3 separate regions of the Homo sapiens genome follow, and all the other regions are linked to region 1. Evidence: fine-mapped expression QTL. A gene starts in region 1. Each other region holds a variant in brackets. All regions are shown on one strand. Distances are from middle to middle.

Evidence for each region. PIP is the estimated chance that this variant, and not a neighbour inherited with it, causes the effect. A credible set is the group of variants that fine-mapping cannot tell apart.
Region 2: its variant is the best candidate, but not a certain one, in a credible set for the expression of GIMAP6 in whole blood (TOPMed, PIP 0.50).
Region 3: its variant is the best candidate, but not a certain one, in a credible set for the expression of GIMAP6 in whole blood (INTERVAL, PIP 0.89).

The regions. Positions count from the first base shown.
Region 1 is chr7:150,630,938-150,633,704 of GRCh38, forward strand. GIMAP6 (GTPase, IMAP family member 6) reads right to left here and starts at 1,448. Exons shown (of 3, transcript NM_024711.6): 1 at 1,232-1,448. RefSeq lists enhancers at 859-938, 1,209-1,298, 1,309-1,398.
Region 2 is chr7:150,663,609-150,666,375 of GRCh38, forward strand. The region is part of intron 2 of LOC124901774 (a long non-coding RNA gene); the gene reads right to left. Among named protein-coding and RNA genes, the nearest start is that of GIMAP2, 21 kb to the right of the region's middle. RefSeq lists an enhancer at 477-696. The variant TACA/T (reference allele first, on the strand shown) is at 1,646.
Region 3 is chr7:150,548,422-150,551,188 of GRCh38, forward strand. LOC107986860 (endogenous retrovirus group K member 19 Env polyprotein-like) reads right to left here. Exons shown (of 2, transcript XM_017012936.2): 2 at 654-1,156. The coding sequence ends at 1,119. Among named protein-coding and RNA genes, the nearest start is that of GIMAP4, 18 kb to the right of the region's middle. The variant C/T (reference allele first, on the strand shown) is at 1,650.

The DNA.
Region 1 (2,767 bases):
GACAGCAATGTGTCCTGGCTTCATAGACTAACACAGTTCTCTGTGCCAAGATCCCATAAGGTTCTCTCTGCTGGATTTTCTCTGTGGGACTGAGGAGGAAGTTGCATGGTCCATGACTGTTTTTCCAGATCATGTAGGACATTCACAACCAGATGAAACAGATCCAGATGAAGGGTCTGGGGTGTGGGGAAACCTAAGTCCAGGGGAACCTGATAGACATGTTTTTCTCATTGCCACATTGTTAGATGTTTGTTCTATTCTGTTCACCTGGCAAACACTCCAGTCCTCCCCAGATCCCAGAAGTATATATGCGGATATTGCTTTATGATTGGTAAAGATCAATTTTGCAGTGCTGGGCTGGGCATGGAGGGAGTCCAGGAAGGTCTGTTGACTTTCTAGGAAGAAAGAAGAAGCAGGCCAGGCGGACAGCCTTACTCAGACCTGAACAGCCAGATTCTGGAAGGAGTACAATATTTCACCTACCAAAGGGAGTTAGTTCTTCCTAACTGGTGGCCTCTCAATCTCTTTGTCCCTGGCTTCCTTACATCCCTGGTGGAAATTGAGGCAGCACTTTACCAATGTAATCTCATTCCTCCTTTAGAGAGAACGGGCAGGCAGCTTAACAGGAAACAACAGCCGGGTGGGACTAGGCTGTGGCATGCAGGAACCTGCACTGTGCCTTCGCAGGGTTCGGGGAATGGGTCTGCACGCAAGGCACCTCCCTGCCTCCTCCTAGACCCTCCCCGGAATGGCACCTCCCATGTTGGCCACAGTGTGCATTGTCTCCAACACAGAAGATGGAACAGATAGTACCATCCTTGTCATATTGCTCTGGAAGAAAGCAAAACTCAGAGAAGCATCTTGCCAAATATTAAACAGTGACTTTGTCACAAGGCAAAAAGTTCTCCAGACGTGTTGGTCACAGCTCTTTTTATCACATTACAAACCTGCACACACCACAGCACACACAAATACACAACACACACACATACACAAAACACATGTACCACTCACACACATGCAGGTGAACACACAAACACATACACAAACACAAATATACATACACAACACACACACAACACTCACATACACACACAACACAAACATCACACACACAAACATCACTCACACACATTCATGTTAACACATACAAACATGTAAACACACATGTACAACACAAACACCCACACATACACATCCAAATATGACACGCACAAATACTCAGACTTACCTCTGCACCAGCTCACAGGCAAGAGAAAGGACCACGTTTCTGGTCTCCCGGCCACGCACTCTCACGGAGGAGGCAGAGAAAAGCTTCCACAGTGTATGAACACAAGGAGGACAAGGCCGATGTTTGCTTATATTTTCAGCAAAATGTTTTCAGAGAGCTGGGCTGGAGACCTGCCCTTGAAAGAGCAGTGTCCGCTGGAGATGGAGGAACAGGAAGTGGGTAGGAGCACCGGCCTTCCTGAGTCAGAAGAGTCTGCTGTTGCACTTTGCAGCCTCGGAAGTAGAAAAAGGGAGGATACCAGTGGTGGGATTATTTTTATCCTGAGCCAGGATAACTAGAACTCAGAGCTTAAAAAGAGGCAGATGCCTCAGAAAGATTTGTGTCAGGAGGAGTGACTTTCCCTGATCTCTCTTTTCTGAACCCCACCTCTTCCCCAGGGAACTTCTATGCCTCAGTATTGGGGCAAACAGTCATTGTCTCCTTTCTTCCCCAACCTCTCCTTCCTTTAATAGTTTCTCTCAGGACAAGGTCTGACACTCATTACCTCTAAGGCATGAATCATTGGTAATTACAATTGTTACAGCTTCTAGAAGATCTGCACTATAAGAAAAGGGAAAATACAAAAGAATGTCTAAAATGTAGGATTAAAGAGAGCACTTGTTATGGGGGAAGAACAATATTTTAAACACAGGCCAAGGGAGAAAACACCTCAGCATCCTCAAAAACATGTTTTCTAGGACTTTACTGACAGATCTGATAACTGTGGCTAAAGGGAAGCCATTGAAGGAAGAAATTCAGAACATAGGAGCATAGGTGATGATATTGTTACCACATGATTTTAAAATGTTAAGATTCCCTAAAAAAATTCCACTCAATCTACTATAATAGTTCTAATTTTCTTTGGTTCTGTTCTGGTTGATAATCATGGTGTATTTATTAAAATTGTTACATAGTATGTGTGTGTGTACATATATATATCTTTTAATGTTCTACTTAAATTATTCTGTAAATACCCTGACACAATTAATTTTTTTTTTTTGAGACAGAATGTCATCCTGTCACCCAGGCTGGAGTGCAGTGGTGTGATCTCAGTTCACTGCAACCTCATCCTCCCAGGTTCAAGCGATTCTCATGCCTCAGCCTCCCAAATAGCTGGAATTACAGGCGTCCGCACACCCGGCTAATATTTTGTATTTTTAATACAGACGGGGTTTTACCATGTTGGCCAGGTTGGTCTCAAACTCCTGACCTCAAGTTATCTGCCCACCTCGGCCTCCCAGAGTGTTGGGATTATGGGCGTGAGCCACCGCGCCTGGTGTAACATGATTAATTCTTTTTTTTTTTTTTTTCTCGAGACGGAGTCTCGCTCTGTCGCCCAGGTTGGAGTGCAGTGGTGCGGTCTTGGCTCACTGCAAGTTCCACCTCCTGGGTTCACGCCATTCTCCTGCCTCAGCCTCCTGAGTAGCTGGGACTCCAGGTGCCCACCACCACGCCCAGCTAATTTTTTGTATTTTTAGTAGAGATGGGGTTTCACTG
Region 2 (2,767 bases), 33 kb after region 1:
TGTCAGCAGTTTAGGCTTTCAGAACTCAGTTGTCAGATTCCTGCATGGCAGGTTAGGCCAGAGGCACCTGCTTCAACTAAGTGGTCATCTTGCCTACTCCTGAGGAAGTCAGAAATGGTCATTGTTGGGTCTGTCTGAATAAGGCCGTGTGTGGGTCTGCAGACTCAGAGAATAACTCTCCTGTCACCCTTGGGTCAGCACCAGCCTGGGGAGGGTCTACAGAGGGGCCTGAGCACAATTCCGCAAGGTGTCCGTGGAGAGACTCCTCCTCATCCCAGTCTGGCCTTCCAGCCATCCAGAGCACATCCCATGTGTAGGGAGGGGACATGGGCCCCAATTCTAACTCTGTCCTGTGTGGAAACCACACTGTATGTGAAGGCTGAGATAACAGATGGAGGAGGTGAGACAGAAAATGGCTGTTGCAGCCACAGGAAGTAGTGTTGCTGCATTCACAGGTAAATTTACAATAAACAGTCTTGCTTTCATATCTTGAGAAGGTTCTGGGAAATGGGCTCACATCAGTTGTAGACCACAGACCTCCTGGGGACATGCTGAGAGGCACATGAACAAAAACCTCTACACTGTATAATAAAGAGGTACAAACTTCTACAAATGGCAGGTAACACTGGTTTAAGAAAAATGCTGCATTGCCAAAGCAAAGGAAGAACTGAAACTATGAGGAGACATTGTCCAAACCTAAGTGCAAAGCCCTTGGGATGGAGGCGATCCTGACTCTTGAGGCCTTTTCTTCCTGTCCTGACCCTCCTGGGCACGCTTTGCTCCCCCATGATATTGAGGAATAGGTCAGAAACCAGGGGCTTTCAGGGGAACAGTATGGTTTGTGGTAAGGTGAGATAGGGATTGGAACATGAAGAAAGGGGGGCTGAGTGCCCATGTCTCTCAGCACAACCTGCCTCCTTGGTTATTTTGCACCAAGAGGGGGACAAAGCTGACATACTGGCCCCTCAGTCTCTGCAAGTCAACACTGTGTGGAATCTCAGGGGTCAGACCCCAGAACTTCGGGCTTTTACGAACATAGCTCCCTGGACAGGGCACTCTACTCCTCACCTCCCAGGGTTGGCATTGTCACTCTCCTGGTCTGGTCACCAGGTATGGTCTCCATTAGGGATCACAGGTCCTCAGAACCAGCCCTGTGCAGTTCAGCTGTGTTCCCACAGCTCTCTGAGAACTGAGTCTCTGTTGATGGGTCATTTGGCCAGCCTGTGCTAATGGGTGAGTAGAGTTTCGTGCTCACTGGGTAAGGTCAGAAATATCAGAGAACTTTGGATGTTGATGTGGGAAGAGAACTTAAGTCACCTCCCGCAATCCTCACTTTAACCATAAAACAAGCATCATGCCCCCAACCTTCATCTCCTGACCCCCAGGCTGCTGCTCTTTCCATGAGGTGGTGAACTTGTCAGTGGGAGGCACAGGTGCTAGGGTGCTAATGGCAAAGTCCATGCTGATGGGCTCCAGTGGAAAACCAGGGCCTCCATGCTAGCGAGGAGCCCTAGTGATGCAAACACAGTCCTGATGGATGCTACCATGCCACTCAGAGAGGGAAAGAATGAATGTGTCAATGCACCGCAGCAGAGACAATGCTGGGGGAGGCGGGCGGAGAAAGTCCCTACGTAATTTAATGCAG[TACA/T]ACGAGGGCTTTTGGAGTTGATACCCTTCCCTTTGTTAATATCAATATAATTCTCTTAGTAGAAATTCCAGTTTCTATGACAGTATGAGAATGTCTCATGGCCATGAGTCATGCTTACAGGCAAAGGGGCTTTGCAACCATCTCTGATCACTCTAGCCTGGCAGTCTGCCTATGCCCTGAAATGTGCTCCACCACTCAGAGACAGAAATCATTGCCTATTCTCCAGACTGAATGAACTCCTAAAGCCTTTTTTCCCATAGAGATGCTAAACTCAGAAAGGATAAGACCTAAAAGTTGGAGAAGCTGGGAGGTGGCTGGGCCCCAGCATGGTGTGTGCACATGCGTTCTCTGGATGGAGGCAGAGCGGGCTCTGAGAGCAGACAGGCAGGCTCTGGAGTGGCCTTTTCAGGAAAGCCAGTGTCTCTGCTCTACTTTCTGACCTTCAGGACCCACTGATTCTGGGTTCAGCGTGGGACTGAGGAATGGGTGTCCCATGAGGTTGGATATTCCCTAAGGTAGTGGGGCTGGGAGCTGGGATCAGGATTAACAGGACACCATGCAAGAAAGAGAGAGGAAAGAGGGAAGAGCAGTGAGACAGAAAGAGGCACAAACTGACAGTGGGAGAGTGAAGTACAGGGTTTAGGGAGCAAAGGAGAGGCAGGAAAAGGAGAAGAACAGGGAGACTTTCTGTAGCTAGAAGGGACTTCTCTCTTCACTTCTCTAATGAGTCTGTACCCAGCAGATCAAGATTATGTAGCTCAGACCTACCATGTGTGTTGCTCAAGAAGCCATGATCACCTAGGTTACAGTTCACACTTCTTGGCCTGAAATTGACAGCTTTTATATCAGGCTGCAAACTTTCTTCACAGCCCCCTTGCTTCTATTCTGCTACCTTATGAGACTCGCAGCAAGGCGCTTGGGGTAGACAGACTCCATCTCTGATTCTACTTTCATTCTCTGAGTAACACTGGTTGAGTTCCTCATCTTCCTGAGCCTTATTTTTACTTCTTTAGACATGGACATGATAATTTCTACTTCCTACTGTTGCTGTAAGCATTAAATGAGAAGAAGATATAAAACCCAGGGCTGAGCCAGAAAGAATTAAGTAAGCGGTAGCTG
Region 3 (2,767 bases), 83 kb before region 1:
AGGCACATATATGCTTGGAATAGTATGCAGCCATAAAAAAGAATGAATTCATGTCTTTTCAGGGACATGGATGAAAGTGGAAACTATCATTCTCAGCAAACTAACAGAGAAATAGAAAACCAAACACCACATATTCTCACTCATAAGTGGGAGTTGCACAATGAGAACATATGGGCACAGGGAGGGGAACATCACACACTGGGGCCTGTCAGGAGGTTGGGGGCAAGGGGAGGGATAGCATTAGGAGAAATACCTAATGTAGGCAACAGGTTGATAGGTGCAGCAAACCACCATGGCGTATGGATACCTATGTAACAAACCTGCACGTTCTGCACATGTATCCCAGAACTTAAAGTATAATAAAAATAAATAAATAATTAAATACTTTAAAGAAAAAAGAAAATTATGAGTTTTTTCTTCTTTAATGAGTTGTCAAATAATAAAAACCAAAAACAGTGTTCAAGGCTAGAATCTAATGACAGGTATGTTATAGGTTTCTTTTGAAATACAATTTCTTTCTTTCTTTCTTTCTTTCTTTCTTTCTTTCTTTCTTTCTTTCTTTCTTTCTTTCCTTCTTCTTTCTTTCTTTCTTTCTTTCCTTCTTTCTTCTTTCTTTCTTTCTTTCTTTCCTTCTTTCTCTCTCTCTCTCTTTCTCTCTCTCTCTCTCTGGATCCCTTTTTGTACCAGATACAAATTATAATAAAACTAATTTGTGTGCAAAGTAGATTTTAGTCTGGTTAAATGTGGTCTAATTATTTGCATAAAGTGCAGCAAGAATAACGTTTTGCTTTTTTGATTGGCTTTGTTTGAACTTTTCATAAGGAATCTCTGATTTGAAAGGCCTCTCAAAGCTATTCAAGTCAGGGATTTATCAGATTGCCTGTGATACCCATACGAATTGTGTGAAGTTGTTTCTTCTCAAAGTCCCAAAATAACTTGAGATTTCTGGGCCTGTCATAAAGTGACATTCTTTACTGACCACAGGTCAGGAACCTTGTAAAGCAACTGCATAGAAAAAGTGCCAGGCCAGTCTTTCCAAGAGGCTTCCTTTCGGGTCTAAAAAGTCAACCTTAATTCCTCAAAGTAATCTGGACATATCTGAAAATATGCCATTTCTCTCACAGCCTCGGTAAAATAACAAGTCTCCAATTGATTCCTGTTATAAAAGAAAACAGATTATTATTAAACTTATATAAATAATTATATTGCCATAAATTAAGAATGTTCACAAATAGTTTCTAAATTCTGAAGAAATCAGGTAGAGAGAAAGATAAATCCTTCACATTTTTGCTTATAATAGTATACTTCACTCAATTTGTTGTAAGCTATAAATAGCTCAAAAGAAAAAAGTTTTCTTGACTCTGGAAAACAGAACACAAAAAGAATTAGCAATGTTACAACCAAGGAAGTCATAAAATTATTTCAGTCCTCTATTTGTTCAGTTTTGTGTAAGTAATTATTGTTCTGCCTGATGTTGGGTTAGCAATCCTCATAAATGCACTAGCTTTTAACTGCAGTCCTGAAAGTTTTTACCTAGTCCAATGATATGATCTCCAAAGTTATCTGAAACTTGTATTCAAGAGTACTTGTCAGAGGCCTTTCCATGAATATTCTTAAGGAAGCAAATTTTGAACTAAAATAATTAAAAG[C/T]CACTTTGTGAGAAGAATCAAAGTAAAACAATAATTATATGTGAATGACAAAGGTCTTAGAATAGCCATGGTTAAAGACTCAACTGACAAGAAAATTTGGCTATTTCTGTGGTATACAACAATTTGACATAATAATTACTAGAACATATTAAGACATCAGAATTTTAGAAATCTCATAAATTTTGGAACATATATTAATAATGCATGTCTAAAACTATAACCCAAAGAAAATTAAACACCATTTCATATTTGACAATCATTTCCATGTGATTTTAACATATCAAATAAGCCTAATGTGTCTGTGATTTCCAGGGGCTCTAATATCCAAAAAGTTAGTTTGAGGTCAAAAAGGCTGAGTTAGAATTTGAAAATTTCAATTTTGGAAAGTTTGTCAAATATCAAAGTTTTAAAACATTTGCTCAAGGTTGCCTGCTTCAAGATGGCCAACTAGATGCAGCCAGGAGGAATATCTGCCACCAAGGGATGAAAACATCAGGAAAACTGGCTTACTCCTAGCAGATCTTCAGAGGGAAAGCATTGAAAGCAGATGGAGGGAAGACACAGGTGCTGAGATGAAGGGGGAGTAAGCTCAGAACCTTGCATGGGACTATCACATACTAGGATTTGTTCCTGGCCCCCCACTAGGATTTGTTCCTGGCCCCCCACGACTCCTGTAGTGGAGTGAGTTGAACAGGCAAAGAGCAACCTGCTCTCACCATAGACCTCTCGAATCCCAGCAGGAGGAAACCCCTTGACCACTAGACATTTGAGTTGGCGGGGAGAGCTGTTCACTGAAGTGGTAGAGGCAGAACTCCAGCCAGTGTGGAGCCCAGAGGGTTTGGTGTGGAAGCGTCTGTAGTGGAGTGTGGCCAGGGACACCCATTCCCCAACGCTCCACTTGCCCCCATACAAGACTTTAACCCTAGGGAAACTGTCAGACCTGAAATCTGACAGGATGGTCTTGCCTATGAGACAGGGCCCATCTGACCTGAGCACCCCTTGGTCTGCTGCCCATTCCCAGGGCTCCAGCCTGGCTGTGTCTGCTTGCAGTGCAGCCCTCAGGTACCTCCTGGGGGCCTGCATCATAACTTCTATGCTGGCAGACTCTGCCTGACAGG